4 separate regions of the Homo sapiens genome follow, and regions 2, 3 and 4 are each reported to be linked to region 1. Evidence: microRNA targets listed by miRTarBase, many of them from high-throughput screens and not tested one by one. Region 1 holds a microRNA gene; each other region holds the end of a gene's coding sequence.

Region 1 (4,223 bases):
TGTGCCCTCTCATGGGCATTTTCTGTCATATATTTTTGTTATCTGTAAAGACTACACTATCTTTTTTTTGTACATATTATGATTTTCTGTAAAACAGGATAGTTAAGATCAAATATTGTATTCTGGATAATAACCACTTCCTCTGAGGAATTATATTTTTTTTGTTTCTTTGTTTTGTTTTTGAGATGGAGTCTCGCTCTATCACCCAGGTTGGAGTGCAGTGGCGTGATCGCGGCTCACTGCGACCTCTGCCTCCTGGGTTCAAGCGATTCTCCTGCCTCAGCCTCCTGAGTACCTGGGACTACAGGCGCCCGCCACCGCGCCCAGCTAATTTTTGTATTTTTAGTAGAGACGGGGTTTCACCATGTTGGCCAGGATGGTCTCAATCTCCTGACCTGGTGATCTACCCACCTCAGCCTCCCAAAGTGCTGGGCTTTACAGACGTGAGCCACCGCACCTGGCTTTTACTGTTGTTGTTGTTGTCTGTTTTTAATTTGTTTATTGAATTGGCTGGAGTTTATTTACTTATCTGCTGTGAATTTTCTTATACTGTTCTTTAGAGAGCACAGCCTTTGTATGCACATAGTAACTCTAAGATGACAGTGATTTTAGTAGCATTCTTTTTGTTTCTTTTCCTGATCTCTCTGTCCAGCTAGTGGTCTCTGTGTATCACACAGAGATGTTAGGTTTTCTCACTGAATGCTGACTTTCTCTATCGTTTTTTTTGAATTTTAAGGGAAAAACGTATCAGAGTTTGATCAAAATAATTTAAGCCACTTGGAACACGTTGTTTTAAAGGCAAGTCTTTCAGGTTTGTTCTGATACAGGAAGGCTCTTATTAGCTGTCAGTTTATCGGATACTCTGGTAAATAAGCTGGCCTGTGGTTTAGCTTGTTGCTCTCATACAGCTACCAAATCCATCTTACTTACTTACCTCCAAAATCTGTGTTGTTACCTGGAGCATCGTTAAGCCTGAGCTTTCCCTGACTCTGCTATAAATAAAGTCCTATTTTTTTTTTTAGGAGAGCTATAATACCATCTTTTATTCAAACTCACTTCTCACACTGGGAAAAAGAATCTCTGACTCACTGCTCTCAAGCTTTGGGAAGGTGCAGCGACCTGCTTCTTTCACAACACTCCTGCTTTATGTACAGAGTGAAGATTGGTAGTCGTAGATTTTGGTCTTCTCAGCCTGCTCATTCCAGGGTTGAAACTCTGTTTTATGATTATTCTGGGGTGATGATGATCAGAGACCCCATATTCTCAACCTGCCAAAACCACACTAAAGCCTACACCCTACGAAAGTGAGCTGAGTGTACGAACAGTGCCCCTAACATCTGTACCTGTTGCTTAGCCACAGCAACACAAAATTAAGGGTAGGGTGCATGAGAAAGGCTGGGAACTTGTTTCTTCCATTAAGATACCATAATTTTTGACTGGTAGCAACTTCACATTTTAGGCTACTTACAATCACCTCTTTCTTCCATCCCAGTTCTCTGACATCCATTTACCATATTTGTGTTACTATATTTTGGTGTCCCAGATTTAGTTCATCCAGGAAAATGAAGACACATAGTTGCATGTTTCCAAATGGAGAAAAATGCAAACAAAAATGCTTGAAAAGACCACGCTCGAGGGAAAGACTCAGAAATCTCACAAACTGGAAGAAGTTTAATGGCATCCATAGATGCCAAGAACATTTTCTGTTTTGCAGTTCATTCCTGGTAAGTAAAATATTTTTATTTTTGCTCTAGGATTTAAGGAGAAACAGACATTTCTACTCTCCATCACATCAGTGATTACCATCCTATCCTAGAATCTTGTGTGTTTTCCCTGCTTATTCTGTGGTTCAGGAGTTGAGGGATGTAACTCAGGTAGAGGGACTCATCTTCAGGTGACGAGCATAGATGACATAGAGTATATTTTCCTGTTAACTATTAGACCTGAGGAATGTAAACTGCTTTCTAACACTTTATAATAATGGAAAAAATAAACAGGATAAGACATGCAAGGATTTTTCTTCCGTGCACAAGAGAGTCTAGCAGAAAAGCTTAATGGTTCATAGTTCTGAAAATTGCCATGTCATAACTCCAAACCATGATTGGACAACACAGGAAAGGATGGATGAAGAAAGACAGTGTAGTGCATGCTACAGAGGCCCTTTGTATGAACACCAGTCACCAATCAGATTGAAAACAATGATGTGTTTTTGAAAGATGCATGTTGGTCAAAGAGTACAAACTTTGAGTTACGTAATAGATAAGCTCTGGCTATCTAATGTATAGCATAGTGATAATAATGCTGTAATTGTTTACTGGAAATTTGATAAGAGAGCAGATTTTAAGTGTCCTCACCACACCCCCACAACACACACACAAATGGTAACTAAGAGCGGTGAATGATGTGTTAGTTAATTTTACTATGGTAATCAGTACGCGATGTATATACATATCAAATCACATTGCACACCTTGAATATATACAAATTTTGTTTGTCAATTACATATTTTTAAAATATAAAAAGAAAGGTGCATGAGTCAGTCATTAGGCTGGGCTGCCATCCTTAAGTGTTCTATTCTTCATGTGGTACTCTTCTCAAGAGGGAGGCAATCATGTGTAATTAGATATGATTGACACCTCTGTGAGTGGAGTAACACATGATATATACATCATATGACATGGCATGGTGGATACACGGGGCGTGTTAAGTTGCAAGCAGTATAATACTTTCCCTAGAATGCAGACATTTCTACTGACACCCTCCCTGTTCTGGACTAGCTCAGTTAATTCTCTAAATTAATTATCAGACGTAAGACCTAGAAACTGAAAGTCTGAGGAAAAACTTCCCATTGAGTTTCTTCTGAGATTCAGATCCCTTTTGCCAAAGTTGCTTGACCAAAATGGTAACAAGCCTTTCACTGTCTTCATGGTGTTCCTGTCACCTATAAAGTGTTTTTTCTTTTGTAAGAACCTATTCCCAACCGTAGCCTGCAAATCTCTTAACTTACCACCTATCGACATTCCTCTTCATTTTTAAGATTTTCCCCTTAGGCATCCATCAGTTCCCTCCCTTCTCAGATCCTTACCCTACTAAAGACCAAAGTATTTTTTTTCTCCCAGGTATTAAAGCTCCTTTTTTTTTTTTTTTTGGTAATTATTTCTGGTCTTTTCTGGTCTTTTTTTTAACTTTTATTTTAAATTCAGTTGTACATATGCAGGATGTGCAGGTTTGTTATATAGGTAAACATGTGTCATGCAGGTTTGTTGTACAGATTATTTTATCACCCAGGTATTAAGCCTAGTATCCATTAGTTATTTTTCCCGATCCTACCCTTCCTCCCACCTTCCACCCTTTGATAGGTCCCAGTGTGTGTTGTTCCCCTCTATGTGTCCATGTGTTCTCATCATTTAGCTCCCACTTACTTATGCATGAGAACATGCCATATTTGGTTTTCTGGTCCTGTGCTAGTTTACTGAAGGTAATGGTCTCCAGTTCCATCTATTTCCCTGTAAAGGACATGATCTCATTCTTTTTTTATGGCTGCATAGTATTTCATGGTGCATATGTACCACATTTTCTTTATCCAGTCTACCATTTATGGGCATTTAGGTGAATTCCATGTCTTTGCCATTGTGACTAGTGCTGCAGTGAACATACTCGTGCATGTATCTTTATAATAGAACAGTTGATAATCCTTTGGGTATATACCCAGTAATGGGATTGCTGGGTCAAATGCTATTTCTGGTTCTAGGTCTTTGAGGAATTGCCACACTGTCTTCCACAATGGTTGAACTAATTTACACTCCCACCAGCAGTGTAGAAGCGTTCATGTAGTTTTTGTTTTTATTCTGTTTATGTGATGAATTCTAAGCTCTTAATGCACAGGAATTCAGTGAATCTTTACAAGAACCTTATGAAGTAGGAGCTGTTATATCCACTCTCATTTTACTAATAAGACAAGAAAAATAATTTTAATAAATGCCTTATGATCACACAGCTATCAAGAAGCAGAGCTTGTATTTGAGCCCAGGCAGCCACTCTACAGTGTCCCCTTTTTTACATCAACTCACTGCCCTCCCTTAGTTTCTTTTCTTCTAAATCCAGCACTAGAATGTATTAAACATTTGATTCAGCTCACAGCTCACAGTTCCTTATGTAGAGCTTTGATAATGGCCCTGCTCACAAAACAAAGAGGCTCTGACAAAACACACAAGTATTCACGT
Region 2 (4,187 bases), not on the chromosome of region 1:
ACCTTCTTTTTTTTTTTTTTTTTTTTTTTTTTGAGATGAGGTTTCGCTCGTTGCCCAGGCTGGAGTGCAAAGACGCGACCTTGGCTCACTGCATCCTCTACCTCCTGGGTTCAAGCAATTCTCCTGCCTCAGCTTCCCAAATAGCTGGGACTACAGGCATGCACCATCACGCCTGGCTAATTTTGTATTTTTAGTAGACAGGTTTTCACCATGTTTGTCAGGCTGGTCCTGAATTCCTGACCTCAGGTGATCTGCCCACCTGGGCCTCCCAAAGTGCTGGGATTACAGGCATAAGCCACCACACCTGGCTGGTCCATCCTCAAATCTTGATATCAGTTATGCTAGCCTTGTAAAATATATTGACAAATTAGTTCAGTCTAATCCAGGCTTCATGCATACTGTTTTTCCAACTGATTCTTATCCATTTGCCATTTCCTTAACGAAGCTCGACTGCATTTTATTAAACCAACTTCAAAGAACTTGTTCTAATGGGCCAGGCTTGATTGACTCCCTGACCCCTTCTCCAAGGTATTTTCATTGACATGTTTTTTGTTTTGTTGAGACAGAGCCTCACTCTGTTGCCGAGGCTGGAGTGCAGTGGCGCAATCTATGCTCACTGCAACTTCTGCCTCCCAGATTCAAGCAATTCTTGTGTGCCTCAGCCTCCCGAAGAGCTGTGACTACAGGTGTGCACCACCACGCCCAACTAATCTTTTGTATTTTTAGTAGACAAAGCATTTTGCCATGTTAGCCAGGCTGATGTTGAACTCCTGTCCTCAAGTGATCTGCCTGCCTCAGCCTCCCAAAGTGTAGGGATTACAGGCGTAGCCATCACACCCGGCTGACATGCTATACTAACATTTGATACCTAATTAAAAATCAGACTCATCTTCCACAGGAAATTCCTACAAATTCTCCATCACTAGGGTCAGTTCCCAGGGACTAGAAGCTTAAAATATGTCCCCCAAAACAGCCCCTACATGACCCTTAGGCAACTACTAATCTGCTTTCTCATTATACTTTGTAGTTTTGTGATTTTAAATAAATAGAAGCATACAGTATGTATTTACCTGGCTTCTTTCACACAACATTGAGATTCGTCCATGTGGCGTGTACCAATTTTTGTCCCCTTTTTATTGCTAAATAGTATTCCACTGTATAGTTATACCATAATTTATCCACTCAGTTACCAATGGATATTTGGGCTATTACAAATAAAGCTATGAAAATGTGTGAACTAGTCTTCATGTGGACATATGCTTTCGTTTCTCTTGGGTAAATACCCAGGGGTGGAATGGCTGAGTCATATAAAATGTGTATGTATAACTTTTAAGGAATTGTTCAACTTTTCCACAGCAGTTGTAGCATTTAGCACTGCCACCACCACTGCAGGAGGGTTTCAGATGTTTCACATCCTTAACACTCGATGGAGTTGTTTTTATTTTTCAAACTTAAAACAATTCTGAAAGGTATGTAGCAGTATCTGGTTGTCATTTAATTTGCACTTCCTTAATGACTAATGTTGAGCATCTTTTCATGCACTTAGTTTCCATCTCATACATACCCTAGTTCTTTATAGATACAAATCCTTTGTTGGCTATGTTCTGCAAATATGTTCCCCCAGTCTGTTCTTGCCTTTTCATTTGCTTGTCTTTCAAAAAGTTTTTAAAATTTACAACGTTTAATTTGAAGTTGATGCTTTTTTGTGTCCTATTTGAGAACTCTCTGCCAAACCCAAAGTCACTAAGAACTTTTCTATATAATCTAGAAGTTTTATGGTTTTAGCTACTACCTTAGTTTTTTAATCCCCTTCAATTCCCTCTCCTTTTGCTCCCCACCATCAAATTCTGGCATTTTACAAAAATACTTTCTATTTGTCAAGTCCCTATTCTACTTACCTATTTTCTTTCTTAACCATGCTAAAGGCCTCTCAACTGAGTCTCCTCATGCTCTAATCCAGAATATTCTTCAATTCCTTTAAAATTAATTTACCTATTAATCCTATCTTTAGGCTAGTGATCCACACCTGAAACACACAGAGCCACACTAACGTAATTGCCACTAGCTTCTTGTAGTGACTTAAATTAAAATGTCCATACCTCATTCACACTAGCCACACTTCAAGTGCTAAACAGCCACACAGAAATGGCTACCATACTGTACAGCAGATATTCTCATCATCCCAATAAGTTCTACTGGACAATGTTGTTATAGATTAATAATAGCTTCCATTTTTAAGACACTTAGCCTAGACACTAAAGGTTTTAATCTTCACGATAACACTATGAGGTAGGCTTTATCTCAGTATTAAAGAAAATTAAGGCCAGGCACGGTGGCTCACGCCTGTAATCCCAACACTCTGGAGGCCGAAGCAGGCGGATCGCTTGATGCCAGGAATTCAAGACCAGCCTGGGCAACATGGCGAAACCCCGTCTATATAAAAAATTAGCCAGGTGTGGTGGCACGCACCTGTAGTCTCAGCTACTTGGGAGGCTGAAGTGGGAAGATGACTTGCGCCCATCAGGTGGAGGCTGAAGTGAGCTGAGATTGCACCCCTGCACTCCCGCCTGGGTGACAGAGAGAGAAAATTAAGGTTCTATAAGGATGCTTACCTAAAACAATCCTTTCAAAAGCTTGAGGCCAGGCGTGGTGCCTCACACCTGTCATCCCAGCACTTTGGGAGGCTGAGGTGGGCGGATCACTTGGGGTCAGGAGTTCGAGACCAGCCTGGCCAACATGGTGAAACCCCGGCTCTACTAAAAATACAAAAACTAGCCAGGTGTGGTGGCAGGCACCTGTAATCGCAGCTACTCAGGAGGCTGAGGCAGAATCACTTGAACCAGGGAGGCAGAGGTTGCAGTGAGCCAAGATCATGCCATTGCACTCCAGCCTGGGCAACAAGAGCAAGACTCCGTCTCAAAGGAAAAAAAATAAAAGCATGACATTGCTCTTTATTGCCAATTTATACAAAACTACTTGTATGCCTCTCACAGAACTTTTTCAGTTCCAATGCTACATACCCCTAGTTTGTACTTTTCCTCCTTCAAAACTTAGTATATATGGGAAATCCCTAATGAATCTGACCCTACTCTTATTCTTCAATATTTACATACTTTGCACTATACCAATATGTGAAATAGAAAAGCTCCATAATTTTCAGCTATTCCTGATTTTTTCCGTCAAACTTCTACCCACTCCTCACTTTGTTTCTTGAGGATTATCACCATCATCCATCATTTTAAGCTTCCAAGAAGAGTCTGATCCTGCTAGCCAGTTGGGCCTCTCACTGTCTAATCAGATTCACTTGAAAAGCTTTTGGAAAATAGATTCTCATGCTCCATTCCAAAAACAACTTGTTAATATCAATAGTGTCTACAATGAGCTTGAGGTACAACAAAGTTTGGGAGTTAAAAACCTCAGCTATCTCAGTCTAAATACTTTAAGTTCGTTTTCTCCTTGTCTCCTCCAAGGTAGTTAGCAAAAGAATGGAAAGAGAACAACATAAAAGCATAGAAACAGACAAATTTTCTACACATACTCCTTATATTTCATTATTCTAAGTTATACACAATGTTCAACAGGAGTTTGAAGTTTATTTAGTAATAAACATAAGTCATGGCTGACAACTGAGAAAATCCTATTCACATAAACCATCATAGATTAAAAATACATAGTATTTGTACTTTAATGCAATAGGGTCCCAGGATTCAAACAAGGAAATTTGATTCCAGAGTTGGCATTATGTAGTTATGTACTCTGCTACAAAGAACTAGTGGAGGTAAACTTCGGCAGTAAAATTCTCAACAGTCAAATATTAATGCATTTCATATACATGGCTTTGCATCCGTAGAGGAAGATACAGTTCCTTCAGCACACGTGCCAATTTCTGAGTCTTCCACTAGAGAATCCTCAACAGTTTCTTCTTCAGAATCAAATTCCTGATTATCCAGTGATTCAAAATTATCCAGAGGTTCACCATTCAGTCTCTTTTAAAGAATAAACCAATAATTTATTGTAAAAATGTTAAAACCTAAGCTGATCAGCATACTGATATAGCTGACCCGTATAGCATACTGATATAGCTATGAGATTTTTTTCATCTTGCCCCTCAATAAATTCATTTATAAACAGTATTATATCAAAGTCTCTACCATGCTAGATCATAGTCAGCAAAGTCAAAGTGTTTA
Region 3 (4,000 bases), not on the chromosome of region 1:
TCACCATGTTGGCCAGGCTGGTCTCGAATTCCTGACCTCAAGTGATTTACCCACCTCAGCCTCTCAAAGTGCTGGGATTACAGGCATGAGCTACCGTGTTGGGCCCCTTCCCAACTTTGGATTCAGAGCTACGTCCTACCAGAGCCAGAAGGGGCCACGCTCTTCACTGTACAGATGGGCACACCAACGCCTGGAGATGTTGGATGCAGAAGGCGAAATGTCAGAAGCTGGAGTCCTGCATCTCAGCTGGAAGGTGAGGTAAGATTCCTGCTGGTGTTTATCCCTCTCCTCACTTCCCTCAGCAGCAGCCCCTTTCTCCTCCCCTCCTGCATCCCTGGAGCAAGTGCCTTAAGGCCTTCCTGCTTCAACATGCCCCCCACCCTACAGCCTTTCCTGCATTTCCCTGTCCTCTGGGGAGTCCCTGCAGATAGAAATTCAACTGCACAGCCACGAGGAACATCTCCTTGATGTTAACTAGACTGTGTTTCTTTACAAATATCTGGTGGCAGATCTCTTCATTCATTCATTCATTCATTCATTCATGCACCCATTTAATCTTCATTCATTCATTCCATCTTTCATTATTCACTCATTGGGTTTGAGCAACTAAACCAGCCACGAGGGATGAAATTCTCCGTCACTGTGAAACTGCTCATTCACCCAACTAGCCAGCTCACTGTTTCTGTCATTCATTATACACCTCATAAGTCCTGCATAGGTCTGAGATGTGGGCTTCATGTATGTCTGGCAGGCATCCAGGCTTTCCCATCATGTGTCTGTCCCCTGGGTCACATCCATGTCAGGTGGGTACCACAGTCTAAAGTCCTTGTATTCTCTTCCACATACCAGGGCTGATAATTTATCAGTTGCCATTGATCAAAGTTCACAAGGCAAATCTTCATAAACTTCTAAAGCTGCCTACAGTTTCCCGTAAACAAATCTCTAAATTTACAAAAGCAATGCTTGCTGATTGTAAAAAACACACAGTGCCAAAGCATACAAAGGAAGAAGACCCGCTTGCAATTTGCTACCTACATCCCACTCTTGGGGCCAACAACTATTGGAAGTGTGGTGAGTGATTGACTTACATCCTTCTAGATCTTATCTACATATTTGCAAAGAAAAAATATACATATATAAAATAAAATATGTGTGGGTTATATCCTTACAAACTGAGATCATAGGCAGTTCCGCAACTTGCCTTTTCTCTGTAACAATAAGTGATGGATGCTTTGCAGGGTTGGTGCTACAGATCCTATTTATTCTTTTAAAAGGCTGCATAGGGAGCTCTGGTGGCACAATGAATTAGTGCATGATACTTATTGAGCTCTTTTGTATGAGCACTTCTGAAGGCTCATTTCTAGAAGTGGAATTGCCAGGTCACGTGCATTTTACATTTTAATGGATACCCAGTGCCAGGCATAGTGTTTCCTACATAGCAGGAGCTTCGTAAAGATCTGTGGCGTGATTACATGGTGCCAGATGGCCCTCTAGAAAGGTGACACCATTCCCACTCCCACCAAGGATGACCAGAAGAGCCACAGAGGTTTCCATTTCTGTCACCAGGTCACAGCAACACTAGGTTTCAGGATGGCCACTTTCCCTAGGGCCACTCTGCTACTCCCTAGGAGGAGTTAAAGGCCCTGTGATGAAAGGAAGGCAACGTCTGGGCCGAGGGTAACTTCTCCTCCAGGTCTCCCAAGCCCATTTCTCAACATCCTCCTGCTATCACGGTGAGGGCAACATCAGCTGCAGGACTTCTCTAATTGGAACTAGCCACATCTACACAAAGAACCCACATGTTTTCTGCCACCCCTGACCAATCCCTGAAAGTAAAGGGAAACTTCCACTTACGCTTGGGCTCATTCTCCTATGGCCAACCCTGGCACTATATTGTCAGTAACTGCTGCACTCCTTCCAGGGCCCTATCTCACTGGGAACCCACACCCGGACAGTCCCTGTTCCTGGCATCTTTGGGGCTGCCTGTGCCATCAAGCTGCCCCCAGCTCTGCCACCTGCCTGCGTCCTGATGCCCCCAGGATGAGCATTATTGGGAGAGCACTAAAAGAGGCACCCCTGTTGGCATACCAGGGCCAGTTCTACCTCCAATCCTCCTGAGAGCTTTGGCCAGCATTGACATGGGGCTCTCTGCCTGGAGAAGGAGGCTGGCATTGAGTGGGCTGTGGGGGCGCAGTGCAGAGGCAAAAATCAGGGTGGAGGCACTCAGCCCTGTCTGAGTCCCAAGGCATTGGCATTGTCCCGCCCCATTCTGCATGACTATGCCAGGCCCCCATGGGTCGAACCCCAGTGAAGACTCTTCTCCCCTAGGGGGTTAACTCCCACGAGCGAGCGGGGCTGGTAGAGAAGGGTGGAACCTGCCACCTCCTCACCTTCCTGTAGGAGATTCCAGGGTGGGGCCGTTCAAGGTCTCCTAAAGCCCCACTCCACGGATGCCCAGCCCCACCCACTGCTCTCCTGGGCTTTTCCCCACCCCCATTGTCTCCCAGCAGGTGGTTTCCTGCTATCAACAGCAGAATGGGCTGTCCCAGGGCTGCTTCCTGGATCCAACCCCCTCACAGCCAACTTACCAACTTCTCATGGTAAGACAGCCAGAGAGCTGGGCTCCATGTGTCCCAGGAAAGCCTTGGGCGGAAGGGATTGGGAAACCCACACAAGGGACACGCGTACCCCATTTCCAGGCTGTTTGGCACACAGAGACATCAAAAAACAGACAGCCAATACATCTAGAACAAGCCTCTCTCCGAGGGCGGCCCATGGATGGACTGTCCTCCCAGACCTCCCAGGTGGCTCATCAGTGGTGGGATTGCGGCGCAGCGACCCCATCACCGCACCCCTCAGCAGTGCCTGGGCTCACCTCTCCACCCACCTCCCCACACAGCCAGAGGCAGGCCCTCAGCCGCAATCAGTAACATTCAGTGAGGACATGTGTTTATCATGTGTTGTGGGTGGGTGCAGTGAGTTCTCTATTCAGGTAGGAGTGGAAGCTGGCTCAGGGCTCATCCAGTCCAATGTCCCACAGGTATAGAAGTGCCCTGATAAAATCTCAGAGCTGGCTGTCCAGTCAAGATTTGCATACCTCCAGAAATGGGGCTCTTACTACCCCTCACAGTAGCCCATTCTACTGTTGGGCACCTCCAATGGTCAGCATTTTCTTTCCGGCAGCCTCTTTCTTGGGCTGGGGGGTGGGCGGAAACTGTCACTCCAGCCTAACCCTCAGGACAAGAGAGGCAGCTGGGGTGGAAACAGAAGCAGAAAAAGTAATAAGTTAAATCCAAGAATGAACAGAGACACGGCAGGATGGGCAGGGACATTCCTGGGGTGCCAGCAGTCTCTAGCTTGATCCAGGAGGCACTGGGGAGGAGGTTGCTGATGGCAAGATTCCAGGCAGGAGGTGACTCAGAAGGCCGGGTTGTCAATGCCCCTCTGATCCCCGGTATATTCTTCAGGCCTGAAGCTGTAGGGAGGGGGTGGCTCTGTGGGAGTTGGGCCCAGGCTGGGCTTCAGAATCACCTGCAGGGAAAAGAGAGAATTCAGTCTTCTGGGCCCTGGCCCTGGCCACCACTCCCCCATCCCAGCTGAGGCATGGTTACCAGGGAGAGGGGTGACCCAATGCTGGGTGCAGAGTGCCCTCCAGGATCGAAGGGCCCTCCACTGTCTCTGCTGCACAGCCGGCCAGAGGCAAGGTGGGGATGGGGATGAGACACCCACCTCACTGTAGGGGGGTGGGGGCGCAGAAAGGGATACTCTGACCCTCTCTGGGGGGATGATGGAGGGCAGTTCCAGGGGCCCCCGGCAATCCACTGGGCTGTCTGGCTCCGGCTCTCTGCAGTTGCGACAGAAGCACTTAGCCAGGCCACAGATGCAAAAGACGGACAGGATGACCAGGAAGATGATGACGAAGATCCTGGGGTGGGGACCACCAAGAGTACCCTGAGTCCCCAGGCCACCCTGGGGACTCCCTACATCTCCCCGCTCCCGC
Region 4 (4,223 bases), not on the chromosome of region 1:
AGTGGAGAGATTGAACGAAGAAGACAAGAATCAGCCTCCAGATATGCAGAACAAATTTCAGTGCTTAAAACAGCGCTCTTGCAAAAGGAAAATATCCAATCCAGTTTGAAGCGGAAGTTGCAGGCAATGAGGGACATTGCTATATTAAAGGAAAAGCAGGAGAAAGAAATACAGACATTACAGGAGGAGACAAAGAAAGTCCAAGCTGAGACAGCTTCAAAGACACGGGAAGTACAGGCCCAGCTCCTCCAGGAGAAAAGATTACTGGAGAAACAACTGAGCGAGCCAGACAGGAGGCTACTGGGAAAGAGAAAAAGAAGAGAGCTTAATATGAAGGCCCAGGCCTTGAAGTTGGCAGCAAAGCGGTTTATTTTTGAATACTCCTGTGGCATCAACAGAGAGAACCAGCAGTTCAAGAAGGAATTACTGCAGCTAATTGAGCAAGCCCAGAAACTAACGGCTACTCAAAGCCACTTAGAAAACAGGAAGCAGCAGCTGCAGCAGGAACAGTGGTATCTGGAGTCCTTAATCCAGGCGAGGCAGAGACTGCAAGGAAGTCATAATCAGTGCCTAAATAGACAGGATGTTCCAAAGACCACACCCAGTCTTCCCCAAGGCACCAAATCAAGGATTAATCCAAAGTAACTTCTAAAATAACACTGATTAAATAAGAACTGGAGCAAGTACTCTTAAGTGCTACATTAACCTGGTTAGAAAGGCTGTTGGATTCCAGATTGCTATTGTAAAATCTCCATCATGATGTGTTGGAGTGAAGGATTAGATGGTTTTATCCAACAGTCCTACTAGATATTTGGTAACCAGCTTCCCTTAACTAGCTTTTTCTTTAAATACTCGTTAATAAGCTATTCCACAAACCTCCAGTTAACCTAACACATGACCCTAACCTAGCCATTTACCATACATCAAACTAGCTAAAGGAAACCAACCTAAGGAAGTGAAAACAGTTGTGATTTATTTCATCTAGCTAAATTGTATTTCTTTATAGAGAAAGTACCTTTAAGGATAGCATTCCAAATAGACTTTGAATAGCGTTCTGCCAGTTTATCCTCATTCCTTTTGACCAACTTAGCAGACAAAAGCAGTTTTTACAAGCTCTTTGTGAGTTTGTGCCAGTGACCAGGTAGCTCCTTCTAGTTTTCTCATGAGTGAAAAAGCATTCTGATAACAGCAAGTCCAGTAAGTGCTAGGCAGAGTGACCTTTCATCTGATGCTAAGCCCCTACAAGTTTGAGAAGGTAAGAAAAGATGAAGGAGACATATATTAGGTCAGCTCTTACTTTTGAAAATGTTTTATTTGAAGAAACACCTGTAGCATTGAGGTGACTGAATGCCTCCACTTATTTCAGGAAAACGTATCCAAAAAAAGTTGAAATATTTGGACAACTTTTTTTTTAAGTGCCATCGATTTCCCTAGCAGCATTCTAAAAGATAGCAAGTAAAATGATGTTTGTTATCCTAAATGCTTTAGTTTTAGGTCATTTATTAATTTTCTTACAGGTGCACTTTCTAGTACATGAAGTATCCTTTGTAATTAATGTGTGCCATATGTTTATTCCCATTTAGTATAACTATAAATTATATTTTAAATTATATATTTTTAGGATAGTTATATTTTTTTTGGGTTCTACGACATTGAAGTTGGACTAGTGATTTATTTGAATGCTGAATCCTAGTATAGGGGAATATAATCTTATATTTTAACAGGGGTCCTCTATGGGAAAATAGGATGAACTTTGTTTCCCAGAAATTGTTAAGTGATGAAAAACTTCAAAATAATTTTCCTGCATTTTCTGCTTTATTTACATGTAAAGTGAATTCCCTGAAAATTGGATTTAAAAAGCATTCTCCTTCAATGTGCCTTTACCTTGTAGCTTTAACAACTTTTCTGTTAAATATGTAGTTTTTTATTAAACAATGTTATTAAATAAAAACATTTATCCACTGATTTTATTACTGTTCCAATGTAACACATTTTCTACTTCATCACTCTTCTGTTACCACTCTTAAATGTCTTATTCACATGTGCAAATAATAAAAACTAGTTTTAATGCAGAAATTAGGATTTTAGCATACAGGTACTTTAACCTAAATCTCAATTTGTGAGCTGAAAATACAGAAACACTGAACAAGGAAAGCATGGTATCCAAGACAAACTTGAAGGCTTAGTCTCTGTGGACGTAAAAACCCTAAGACAATGTATTTCTAAGGCTGATAAAAAGTTGGAAAGTAGGAAGCATATTAGTTCTGTTAATTCCCCTCCTGCCACTGGTGTCCCAATTATCTAATTCAAGAGTGGGTAACTTCCACCTGATCTCAGTTCATTTTTACTTATCATCCCAGGTAATGGATATGGTATACTGCTTGTGGCTGTCCCTTCCAGAGTGAGGGCTTGAAGACATTAAAAGTTGAATGATAACTGATTTCATACCTTGAAATCCATACCTCTAAGTAAGCAGCAAGTTGGCCAACTAAGATTTCAATCTGCATTTTGTCTGCTTTGCTATTTAGAAAATTACACAGGGTTATGTTACAGAAAGTGAGTTTAGATGGAAAAGACCTCTGAGGTGAAATTTAAGACCTATGATTGCTAAAATGAAGCCTACAATGCAAAAACTGGGGAAGAAACTATTCTAGGCAGAGGCAACAGTGAATGCAAATGCCTTAAGATGGCAATAAGCTTGGTAGGTTCAAGGAACAGAAAGGTGTGTATGTAAAGTATAGTTGAGGAATGGTCACAGAACATGAGTGGAGGAAAGGAAGATGAGGCTATTAAGGCTAGCAGGAGTTTAGGCACCGAGGGCCTTTAGCAGGTGAATGAGGTCTGATTTACCTAATTTTAAAAACTACAACTGTTATGTGGAGTGTATCCAAGCCAGAAAAAAGTGGAAGGAAACCAATTACGAAGATACTGTAGTCTAGGCAAGAGGTAATGATGGCTTAGATTGGAATGGCAGAAGTAGAGTGAACAGATTCAAAATGTAGTTGGTGGTAGGCAGGACTTGCTAATGGATTTGCTATAAGAAGAGAGAGATGAAGCAAGAGTAAATTTCTAAAATGTTCTCTTTTAAGGAGATGTGCAGAATATTCTTTGTATTTTTTTAGACGGTCTCACTGTGTCACGCAGGCTGGAGTGCAGTAGTGTGATCACAGCTCATAGCAGCATCTTGACCTCCTGGACCCAAGAAGTCCTCCCATCTCGGCCTCCCAACTAGCTGGGACTATAGGTGCACACCACAATGCCCAGCTAATTTTTTTAATTTTTTTGTAGAGATGAGATTTCATCACATTGCCCAGGTTGGTCTAGAACTCCTGAGCTCAAGCGATCCTCCAGCCTCAGCCTCCCAAAACGTTAGGATTACAGGTGTGAGCCACTGTGCCTGGCCCCAGACATTGAGACATATTCATGATGATACGAGAAACCCTACTCAATTTTATAGCTTGTATAGTATTCTACTGTATGACTATATCACAATTTATCCATTCTGATAATGGATAATTATTGTGTATTAGAGTAGGCTAACAAAGAGACCCAAGAATGTATAATGTCTCAAATAACAGACATTTATTTCTTGCTCACTTAATAGTCTCAGATACATGTTCCTGGTTGGCAAGTGGCTCTCCTTCAACAGGTGATTCAGGGGGTCAAGATATCTTCCATTTTGTGTTCTTCCATCTCCTAGGGCCCCATCATCATCTGCATTTAGCCAGAAGAAGGGTAAAGAAAGCTTGGAGGTACACCCACTCAAAAGTTCTAACCTGCAAGTGGCATTCATCACTCCACTCACATTCCATGGGAGAGGAGTTAGCTGGCTTCTCCTTCACTAGAGAGAGTGGAGGGAAGGGGGATAACTAGGAAATATACAGTCTAGCCATTTGTTCTATAATCCCATAATTTGCAAAGGTGAAAGTAGATCTCTGATACTTGTTTTCAGTATTTCTCTACTGTAAACTGTACTGCAATAATCATTCTTTTTTGTGTCTCTTGGTACGCCTAGACAAAAGGAGTTACTCTGTGTATACCCAGGAGAGAAACTGCTAAGTCTTCGGGTACATATCTTCAACTCTGCTAGATACTGCCAAATCACTTTTGAAGTGATTGTACCAATTTGCATTCCAAACCATGTATGAAAGTTCATAATACTGTCAAACTTAGTTTGTTAGTCTAATGAATTTTTTTTAAAAAAACTTTAAAACTCAATACTG

Evidence for each region. The annotated mature microRNA hsa-miR-514b-5p reads UUCUCAAGAGGGAGGCAAUCAU and lies in region 1 at 2,592-2,613, shown strand. An mRNA with a match to its seed (bases 2 to 7 or 8) in the 3' UTR can be bound and repressed. Matches are read on the target gene's strand: a 7mer-m8 pairs with bases 2 to 8, a 7mer-A1 pairs with bases 2 to 7 and ends in A, and an 8mer does both.
Region 2: miRTarBase lists GMNN as a target of hsa-miR-514b-5p. Seed matches in the 3' UTR shown: 7mer-A1 at 3,798-3,804.
Region 3: the mRNA of TMEM92 is a reported target of hsa-miR-514b-5p. Seed matches in the 3' UTR shown: 7mer-A1 at 1,709-1,715.
Region 4: the mRNA of CCDC121 is a reported target of hsa-miR-514b-5p. Seed matches in the 3' UTR shown: 7mer-A1 at 1,248-1,254.

Annotation. Positions count from the first base shown.
Region 1 is chrX:147,248,587-147,252,809 of GRCh38, reverse strand. It overlaps MIR514B (microRNA 514b), which reads left to right and starts at 2,580; the gene lies at 2,580-2,659. The region is part of intron 2 of LOC105373347 (periphilin-1); the gene reads right to left.
Region 2 is chr6:24,785,437-24,789,623 of GRCh38, reverse strand. It overlaps GMNN (geminin DNA replication inhibitor), which reads right to left. Exons shown (of 7, transcript NM_015895.5): 7 at 3,525-3,986. The coding sequence ends at 3,825. Among named protein-coding and RNA genes, the nearest start is that of ARMH2, 11 kb to the left of the region's middle.
Region 3 is chr17:50,278,726-50,282,725 of GRCh38, reverse strand. It overlaps TMEM92 (transmembrane protein 92), which reads right to left. Exons shown (of 5, transcript NM_153229.3): 4 at 3,730-3,925; 5 at 1,241-3,531. The coding sequence ends at 3,418. It overlaps TMEM92-AS1 (TMEM92 antisense RNA 1), which reads left to right. Exons shown (of 4, transcript NR_125805.1): 3 at 175-258; 4 at 850-1,147. Among named protein-coding and RNA genes, the nearest start is that of TMEM92, 6.3 kb to the right of the region's middle.
Region 4 is chr2:27,623,385-27,627,607 of GRCh38, reverse strand. CCDC121 (coiled-coil domain containing 121) reads left to right here. Exons shown (of 2, transcript NM_024584.5): 2 at 1-1,970. The coding sequence ends at 645. Among named protein-coding and RNA genes, the nearest start is that of CCDC121, 3.5 kb to the left of the region's middle.